Linked DNA regions of Homo sapiens. The protein of the gene in region 1 interacts with the protein of each later gene in a biochemical or structural test. Each region holds a gene or a part of one and is shown in the gene's direction. Other genes may lie near its edges.

Region 1 (3,656 bases):
GATAGGTGATAGATTAGATAAATAGATGATACATACATGATAGATAGATGATAAATAGACGGTAGATGGATGACAGATAGACAGATGATAGGTGATAGATAGATGATAGATTGATAGATGATTGATAGATAAATAGATGATAGATACATAGATGATAGATGGTAGATAGATGATAGATGGATAGATGATAGATGATAGGTGGTAGATGATAGACAGATGATTAGAAAGATAGATGATAGATACATAGATGATAGACACATAGATGATAGACAGATTGACAGATGATAGATGATTGATAGATGATTAAATAGATGATACATAGATGATAATGATAAATAGATGATAGATGATAGATGATAGGTGATAGATAGATTGATAGATGATAGAAGATTGATAGATGATAGATACATAGGTGATAGTAGATGTAAGATGATAGATGATAGATAGATAGATGATAGACAGATTGATAGATGATAGAGAGATAGAGATAGAGAAAGAGGAGAGAGAAATAGAGAGAGAGAGAGAATGTGTGTGAACCCAAAGTATCTGAGACAGGTCTCAATCGATTTAGAAAGTTGATTTTGCCAAGGTTAAGGACACCCCCGTGACACAGCCTCAGGAGGTCCTGAGGACATGTGCCCAAGGTTGTCAGGGCACAGCTTGCCTTTAGACGTTTTAGGGAGTCATGAGACATCAATCAACATGTGTGAGATGTACATCGGTTTGGTCGGGAAAGTTGGGATAACTCGAAGCAAGGGCTTCCAGGCCATAGGTAGATAAGAGACAAAAGGCTGTATTCTGAGTCCTTGATCAGCTTTTCACTGAACACACAATTGAGTCTGGCTCAGTTCATCTGCATTTTTACATAAAAAATAGGGCAGAGGAAGCAATCAGATACGCATTTGTCTCAGATGAGCAGAGGGATGATTTTCTGTCCTGCACCTGGGAAGATAAGCTATCCATTTACAATGCCAAGGTGAAAGTCAACAGAACTGTTTTAGGGTAAAGATCTTTAGGCCTGCAAGGAATGTCCTTGTAGAGAATTAAAAAAAAAAAAAAAAAACTTTGCAGCTATCTTATTGAGGAATAAATGAGAGGCAGGTTTGCCTGACGTAGTTCCCGGCTTGACATTTCCCTTGGCTCATGACGTTGGGGTCCTGAGATTTATTTTCCTTTCACACTAGATAGATAGACATTTATGTTAAGGAACTGGCTGACAGGATCGTGGGGGCTGGCAAGTCCGAAACATCTTGGTAAGCCAGGCTGGAAGTGCAGGCAGAAGCTGAGGCTGCTCTCTTAAGGCAGAATTTCTTATTCAGGAAACCTCATATTTGCTCTTAAGGCCTTTAAGTGATTGGACGAGGCCCAACTACATTATCTAGGACAATTTCCTTTTCTAAAGTCAACTGGCTGTAGATATTAACCACATCTATAAAACACTTTCACAACTCCTAGATGAATGTTTGGTTAACTGACTGGGTGCCACAGCCTGGCCAAGTTGACATATAAGACTATTCCAGTCCACACCTTGTCAATTTGGCACCCATGTGCATCTCCTTAAACCATCCTTCACCTCCAAGTAAACACAGGAACAAAATCATACTCCTGCCTAACATGATAGAACTACCAGTGTACAACCAAAAACGCACTCCCGGCTGGGCGTGGTGGCTCACGCCTGTAATCCCAGCACTTTGGGAAGCCAAGGCAGGTGGATCACCTGAGGTCAGGAGTTCAAGACCAGCCTGGCCAACATGGTGAAACCCTGTCTCTACTAAAAATACAAAAATTAGCCAGGCATGGTGGCAGGCACCTGTAATCCCAGCTACTCGGGAAGCTGAGGCTGAAGAATTGCCCAAATCCAGGAAACGGAGGTTGCAGTGAGAGGAGATGCGCCGCTGCACTCCAGCCTGGGATAAACAGCGAGACTCTGTCAAAAAAAAAAGCACCCCCCATTCCTCCAGAAAAGGATACCAAAGTCCTTGGGTCCTAAAGGAGAGGCTTCACCTTTGACCTACCCTGGCCCTTCCCTTGGCTGATTTTTCAGAAACCCAGATCGAGACTCAAAGCCCTGGTGCTACGTCTTTAAGGCGGGGAAGTACAGCTCAGAGTTCTGCAGCACCCCTGCCTGCTCTGAGGGTAAGTGGCAGCCACCCCGCCTTTCCCTGAATGTCCCTGGGGGAGGAAAGTCCAGGAGGACAGGCCGATAGCCCTCCTGCACCTGAGGGGAGAAAGGGGGAGGCCAGGAGTGAGTCATTTTGGTTGCAGAGGGAAGAAAGACAGGACTTAGGTCTGTGCCTGGGCTTGGCCTCTGACTGGCTATTTGTCTGACCTGGAGCTGATCTCCTCACACTCTGACCCTCAATTTCCTCCTCTATGGAGGAGAGGATGGGGCTGAATCAGTGGTTTTCAGTCCTTTTGAGAATGAATGGAGATTCTCCCTTTTTTGATTAATGGGTGAATGGGGCTTTGTCTCTCTTTCGCTCCCTCTCAAACTTTTTAATGCAAAAAAAAAAAAAAAAAAACTTCCAAGATTGAAAAAATATATATTAAGTTACAAGACCAGGCACAGTGGCTTATGCCTATAAACCCAGCACTCTGGGAGGCTGAGGCGGGCGGCTCACCTGAGGTCAGGAGTTTGAGACCAGCCTGGCCAACATGGTGAAACCCTGTCTCTACTAAAAATACAAAAATTAGCCGGATACGGTGGCAGGCACCTGTAATCCCAGCTACTCAGGAGGCTGAGGCAGGAGAATTGCTTGAACCTGGGAGATGGAGGTTGCAGTGAGCCGAGATCATGCCACTGCACTCCAGCCTGGGTGATAGAACAAAAAACTGTTTCAAAAAAAAGAAAAAAATGAAATGCTAAGTTACAGAAAGGTACTATGAATTCAGTGGTGCTTATACAAATCATTACGTTACTTATCACATTTATCACAGCACTATGAAAGATTTTTTTTAAGTTCTAAATATATATAGGGCCAGGTGCAGTGGCTCGTGTCTATAATCCCAGCACTTTGGGAGGCTGAGGCGGGAGAACTGCTTGAGCCCAGGAGTTTGAGACCAGCCTGGGCAACAAAGTGAGACTCCATCTCTACAAAAAATACAAAAATTAGTCAGGTGTGGTGGCTTGTGCCTATGGTCCCAGCTGCTTGGGAGGCTCAGGTGGGAGGATCGCTTGAGCCCAGGAGGTTGAGGCCACAGTGAGCAATGATTGTGCCACTGCACTCCAGCCTGGGTGACAGTGAGATCCTGCCTCAAAATAAATACATAAATATGTGTGTGGGTGTGTGTATATATATATGTAATACACATATATTAAATTTATATATGATATATATAAACACGCACCAGCTATATGCATTCAGCACCCAGGTCCACGGGTGATGCCTGTGACTCTGAAGACTTTACAGTCACTCTACAATATCCTCCCCATCCCCCATGGTCTGGTCTAAATGAGGACTCGCAGATCTAGATAATCTTGAAAATCCCTTCCATTTATGGTATTTATGTATAGAGGTATGCTTTGTCAGTTTCAGGTCGGGAGAAAAAAATGGAAAAATGGGGGAAATAAATGAAAACAGGCAGCACTCCACGGCTCATACCCTCCTCCTTCCCAAGCCCATCATCAGATCCTCAGGACACTGGCAGACACAGTC
Region 2 (3,656 bases), on another chromosome or scaffold:
GTTAGCCAAAAAATGTCTATTCAGGCGTCAGATATGATAGTAAGATAATTAGTTTGCGATGCGGACTTTATATGCAGGATATTTGGGTGTTTATGGAGGAAAAGTGAAGTCGATTTTACCTTCAAGAGGCCAACAGCCAGCTGGAGAGGAAGTGCCTGCTCCCAGTAGCGTCTGCTGGTGAGACCGACTTCCACTTGACTAGCTGAGCCCATTGACATAATGTGATGGTTCTATTCTCCCTTCAGGCCTGGAACCGGGAACCGAATATACAATTTATGTCATTGCCCTGAAGAATAATCAGAAGAGCGAGCCCCTGATTGGAAGGAAAAAGACAGGTAAGAGTATCTTGCAGGTAACAAGGAGAAAGATAGGACAAAACTAATAACAAATGAGCAATCTTGCAATATGAAAAGGTTCTCCATGTTTTGATGCATTTCTTGTGATTTTTTTTATCTAACAGCATAGTGTATATATTGTATTCTTTAATAGGAGAAATAATTTAACATGCACTGCAGAGTTTGGTTTTATTTTTTTTCTTTACTACAGCCACTCAATATAAAGCCTTGTTATTCACCTTTTAAAAATTCAAACAAGATGTTAAAATGTAAAAGAAGAGCTATCATTGCTCTTCTTTTATACCTTCTGTTGAATTTTAAAATGTTTCCTTTTTTAAAGGAGGGAGAGAAACCTCTCACATTTATCTTTATTTGGTTTCTACAACTTAGAGCTAAATAATGTCTTACTTTTGCATCCAGTTTCAGTTAATTTCAAGAAAATGTGTATTCCTGATATAGGAAAATTTCAAAAATGAACATGTGTGTTTTATCTATTTTTACCATTTCAAACCATGAAAAACTGTTGAGCCAAACCTCTGTAATTCTCATACTTATGACACTGATATGATTAGTCTGGATTCTACTTCCTACAACTTGCTTCTCAAATTTAAAAAAGAAAGAGAGAAAGAGAAAGACTGCACATTTCAGTTCCATTAGGTCTAATTTGAGCAGAGGCAGCTTCTACGGGGCTCAGCGGTTTAAAGCTGTGTGTATGATAAATTCATACTAACACTTTTTTCTTTCTAAACTATAAAGAAACCTTTGAGAAAAATCCTAAAGATTTCTTTCTGGAAAAAGTGTTTTGTGATCTCAGAACTGCTCATTTTCTGGTGGCTTTTATCAAATTGATGAACAGTCATTGTTGCCTGAATCGATTATTATCATTGCTGCTACTTCCTGGAGCTTAATGCGCTTTGCTTTTTTGGCTCTAACCTCTCTCGGCTAGACGAGCTTCCCCAACTGGTAACCCTTCCACACCCCAATCTTCATGGACCAGAGATCTTGGATGTTCCTTCCACAGTTCAAAAGACCCCTTTCGTCACCCACCCTGGGTATGACACTGGAAATGGTATTCAGCTTCCTGGCACTTCTGGTCAGCAACCCAGTGTTGGGCAACAAATGATCTTTGAGGAACATGGTTTTAGGCGGACCACACCGCCCACAACGGCCACCCCCATAAGGCATAGGCCAAGACCATACCCGCCGAATGTAGGTGAGGAAATCCAAATTGGTCACATCCCCAGGGAAGATGTAGACTATCACCTGTACCCACACGGTCCGGGACTCAATCCAAATGCCTCTACAGGACAAGAAGCTCTCTCTCAGACAACCATCTCATGGGCCCCATTCCAGGACACTTCTGAGTACATCATTTCATGTCATCCTGTTGGCACTGATGAAGAACCCTTACAGGTAATTAATTGTTCTCTTCACTTCTCATGGGGCAGCACAGAAAGGAATAAGTTAGGTAACTGAAGTGACCAGCCCTCGAATAAAAAGTGGCTTCATGGCCGGGTGTGATGGCTCACGCCTGTAATCCCAGCACTTTGGGAGGCCGAGGCAGGTGGATCATTTGAGGTTAGGAGTTCAAGACCAGCCTGGCCAACATGGTGAAACCTCGTCTCTTGAAAAAAAAAAAAAAAAAAAAGTGGCTCCACTTTTAGAACCTCTTAGAAGATGGCACATTTAAGCCCTGCTTTTTTTTTTTTTTAAATCCCAATATGGCTCTACTTTGGAGGACATACCAGAGAGTCACTAGCTTTTATTTCATAGAGAAAATGAAACTATTTCTCTTATTCTCACACATTTGAGGTTCCTTTTTGAGTAAGATAGATGATTCTAGAAAAGAAAGATATTCTACCTGAATTTCCATTTGTGTGCAGAAGTCTAAAACACTACCTTTACGATTTGTCCTTGAAGAACCCCACTATCTACAACATATCTAAAGAAAAAAAAAAACAGGCGAAGCTGTGCATAGCAGCTGATAAGTGATTGATTCTCTAAAACGTATATTATTTAATTTGTGTTGACAGTATCCATTTTTTTTTTTCCCCGAGATGGAGTCTTGCTCTATGGCCCTGGCTGGAGTGCAGTGGCGTGATCTCGGCTCACTGCAACCTCTGCCTCCCAGGTTCAAGCAATTCTCCTGCCTCAGCCTCCCAAATAGCTGGGATTACAGGCATGTGCCACCGCACCCAGCTAATTTTTGTATTTTTAGTAGAGACGGGGTTTCACGATGTTGGCCAGGATGGTCTCGATCTCCTGACCTCGTGATCCGCCCGCCTTGGCCTCCCAAAGTGCTGGGACTACAAGCATGAGCCACCCACTACACCCGGCCCACTGACAGTATCAATTTTTATTGTGTTGTTACTTTTAGAAAGTGGCAGAATTTAAAAACTGACAACACTGTAGGAAATTTATGAGCTTAGAAACATGAGTTTGAGGATTTGCCCAACTGTTTTAAGGACTCCACACTGGGGTCAGATGTCACCTGGAGGAGCATGACCGTGTCTCCCATATAGCGCAGTGTCCAGGTTTTATGTGAAGCAAACATGGCCAGGGCTTCCAGAGGGCTTATGCAGACCTGCGACTGAAGCAAGATCAATGGCAGGCCGTCTCTAGTATTGTCGAGGGCTCCTGTTAACTACGGAGCACGTAGGTAGATTGTTGGCAGGAAAATCTGGCAGGAACGATGGCCCCTATCCTTGTTCCATTTCTCTCCTCAGCTGGTTAGGACCACTATACCCTCCCTCTTTTTTTTTTTTTTGTTTTTTGTTTTTTGTCTTCCTTTGCTTTGTTTAAACAGTGAGGGTTATTGGTAAGAGGAGAGCCCGTGTCATTCCTCACTATAATGCTTTCTCTCTGCTTTGGATGTACCGATAATTGCAGTTCAGGGTTCCTGGAACTTCTACCAGTGCCACTCTGACAGGCCTCACCAGAGGTGCCACCTACAACGTCATAGTGGAGGCACTGAAAGACCAGCAGAGGCATAAGGTTCGGGAAGAGGTTGTTACCGTGGGCAACTCTGGTATGTAAACACGTACTATTTAGACACAGGCTCCCCTCTGCTGTACACCAGAGATGGGCTTTTCTGTTGACTGTACCTTTGTTGCCATTGTCTTTTTATCTTTGGGATTTAATGCAACACATCAACATGAAATAAATGAGCAACTTTATATTAAATTAATCTCTCCCCCACCTCCTGCCATATCCTGTTGTCTTCACAAAATGCATACGTAATTGACAGACTCTCAAATGGTGATATGATTATAGATCTGGAAGGGATTTCAAATATTATTTAGTACAACACTCTGAGTCCTT
Region 3 (2,849 bases), on another chromosome or scaffold:
ACAGCTAACCAGGTGCCTGGGGTCTGGAGACCTTACTGCTTGAGGAGTGAATTAAGAGAAAAGACTGCTTGCTTTCCTCCAGACTTTGAGCCCTGGCCTGATGTAGACCTTTTTGCTCTCTCCTCCTTCGTATAGGTACGGTTCCTGGAGCAGCAGAACAAGATGCTGGAGACCAAGTGGAGCCTCCTGCAGCAGCAGAAGACGGCTCGAAGCAACATGGACAACATGTTCGAGAGCTACATCAACAACCTTAGGCGGCAGCTGGAGACTCTGGGCCAGGAGAAGCTGAAGCTGGAGGCGGAGCTTGGCAACATGCAGGGGCTGGTGGAGGACTTCAAGAACAAGTGAGCAACTCCCACCCTCCACCCAACTGAAGTCACCGTGCTCTCCTCCACCCCTTGGGACCTTGGGACTAAGTCCCCATGGCCCTCTGTTGTGGGAAGTGCAGTCCTATCTAATTAGGGTGACCACCTGATGAGGTTTGCTCGGAACAGTCTGTGTTTATGCCCAGGTTCCTAGCACAATTGTTGATAGTACCCACCCCCTTTCAATCTCAACTGTCTGGATTTGAAGAACAAATTATGTGTCAATGTTGACATGGTAAACCTGAGACGGGAGAGATAGGCAGCCTGTGGGCCTCACTTTTGTACTTAACATTCTGGCCCCTCTTTAGTCTTGACCCTTGACCTCTAGCAAACTCTAGAAAGTTCTGTCTGAGGTCTCATGTCAGGCCCTGCTGTTAACACTCTCAAGGTGTCCAATCCGATGTGTATTCATGGATTTGGAGAGAGATTTCCTGCTTCCCACGGGCTAAGGGAGGGGTGAGGGTGGAGAGGGCAGCTGGGGAAGGCAGAAGGACCAGCCTTCTCATATCCTGCATCTCTGTGAACTGAATTTTCCTGATTTTCACAACGCCCCTGTCTCCCAAAAGACCAAGGGCAACCTCCCTTTTGCCTTCATCCTCTAATTGTAAGTCTTTTCCTCACAGGTATGAGGATGAGATCAATAAGCGTACAGAGATGGAGAACGAATTTGTCCTCATCAAGAAGGTGAGGGAGTCTCCCTTCTCCTATCTGGACACTGGAGGCTGGGGCTCAGAGACTCAGACCAAGAAGCTTTCTGGGTTTTGTCCCTAAATATTCCTAAGTAGTGGGACAAACTCATTTATGTAAACATTTGGGTGCACAGAAAGGTAGACAAGGATGGAGTGGTAGGTGCATTTGGACAGAACTCTTGACATCGGTGTTGGGACATGGTTCAGAAAACAGAGCAGTAGAACTGGAGATCTGGCTCTAGAAGGCTCCCTAGAGAAGGAGGTGGAAGAGGGTGTGTTGCAGGAAGCAGAGGTGAAGGTGTGTGGGCTGAGAATGCACATGTGATGGGCAGAGGCTGGGCTGGAAGATCAATCCACAAAGTGGGCAACTAGAAAGTCCTGTGACCAGGCCATTGGGTGGACCTTGGGAGCCCCTTGGTTGGGGTTGGGTGTGGAAACCCAGCTCAGGCTCCCCTCTCCTCATCCCCCAGGATGTGGATGAAGCTTACATGAACAAGGTAGAGCTGGAGTCTCGCCTGGAAGGGCTGACCGACGAGATCAACTTCCTCAGGCAGCTATATGAAGAGGTATGTTCCTGGTCGCAGGAGAGTGAGGGTCCCCCAGCCTTGTCAGCGCCTCCACCCTGAGACTCAACCAGAGGCTCCTCCCAGCCCCCAGCACACTAATAAGACAAAGGCCCACTGCTGACTAATTACAGCCACCAATATTTGCTCGGCTAGTATTTATTGGGTCTATATGTTCTGTCCCTCGCATGAGGGATGAGTCATTACCCCATTTCACAGACGAGAAAGTGGGCTCAGAGAAGTGAAATAACGTATCCAAGGTCATCATAGGGTGTGGTGATTCAGCAGCAACTCTGTCCCCAAAGCCCTTGTTCCTAATCTTTGAGCTGCATTGGATCCCTCTGTGCACCTAGTATTGGTGCACCCAGTTCCTTTTTCAGGAACTTTGCCCTCTCCCTGACCCTGACTCCCACCTGCTCCTCTCCTCTGCTGCCCCTGTCTTATACCCTAAGAAAGGCTGTTGTGGAAAAGGGGGCTCCCTGTGTGCAGAGACAGGGCCTCACCACTTGCCCTCTTCCCCCACAGGAGATCCGGGAGCTGCAGTCCCAGATCTCGGACACATCTGTGGTGCTGTCCATGGACAACAGCCGCTCCCTGGACATGGACAGCATCATTGCTGAGGTCAAGGCACAGTACGAGGATATTGCCAACCGCAGCCGGGCTGAGGCTGAGAGCATGTACCAGATCAAGTATGAGGAGCTGCAGAGCCTGGCTGGGAAGCACGGGGATGACCTGCGGCGCACAAAGACTGAGATCTCTGAGATGAACCGGAACATCAGCCGGCTCCAGGCTGAGATTGAGGGCCTCAAAGGCCAGGTATGGGCCGGGTTGGGGGTGGGAGGGGTTCCTTGGACACATCCTGGTGAGAGGAGATAATGTAGGAAGAGTGAAGTTTCTGGGAGTCGGGGAAGGAATCCTAGACCAGGGTTCAGGAGTTGGAGGGGCAGCCACAGTTCAGCTTCTCAGTCTGCTTCTGAGAAGCAAAGGGATGCAGGGAAGGTCCCTTGGGCCAGGACAGAGGTGAAAGGGGACTGGGGCAGGTATGTTGGGGCTCGTGATACATGCTCCCAAGCCTGCTTTAATCAGTCATATGCATCAGGGTAAGGTTGAGCTCTGCTGCTTTAAGGAAAGTCTAGAACCCAGGGATCTAGTCCAGTTAGGGTAGGGGGACCTTACAGTGTCGCAGGTGAGAAGGGTGTGGAGGGGAAGCACCTGGAAACTGCTCATGTCTC

Evidence for each region.
Region 2: the proteins of PLAT (region 1) and FN1 form a complex in vitro, tested with the Homo sapiens proteins (one study listed by BioGRID).
Region 3: the proteins of PLAT (region 1) and KRT8 form a complex in vitro, tested with the Homo sapiens proteins (one study listed by BioGRID).

Annotation. Positions count from the first base shown.
Region 1 is NC_000008.11:42,183,561-42,187,216, reverse strand, and holds part of PLAT (tissue-type plasminogen activator isoform 1 preproprotein), read left to right. Parts: intron 1-2,044; coding exon 2,045-2,136; intron 2,137-3,656. UniProt on the Homo sapiens protein: Converts the abundant, but inactive, zymogen plasminogen to plasmin by hydrolyzing a single Arg-Val bond in plasminogen.
Region 2 is NC_000002.12:215,370,001-215,373,656, reverse strand, and holds part of FN1 (fibronectin isoform 1 precursor), read left to right. Parts: intron 1-245; coding exon 246-335; intron 336-1,281; coding exon 1,282-1,748; intron 1,749-3,224; coding exon 3,225-3,363; intron 3,364-3,656. UniProt on the Homo sapiens protein: Fibronectins bind cell surfaces and various compounds including collagen, fibrin, heparin, DNA, and actin. Fibronectins are involved in cell adhesion, cell motility, opsonization, wound healing, and maintenance of cell shape.
Region 3 is NC_000012.12:52,899,359-52,902,207, reverse strand, and holds part of KRT8 (keratin, type II cytoskeletal 8), read left to right. Parts: intron 1-135; coding exon 136-344; intron 345-988; coding exon 989-1,049; intron 1,050-1,524; coding exon 1,525-1,620; intron 1,621-2,142; coding exon 2,143-2,433; intron 2,434-2,849. UniProt on the Homo sapiens protein: Together with KRT19, helps to link the contractile apparatus to dystrophin at the costameres of striated muscle.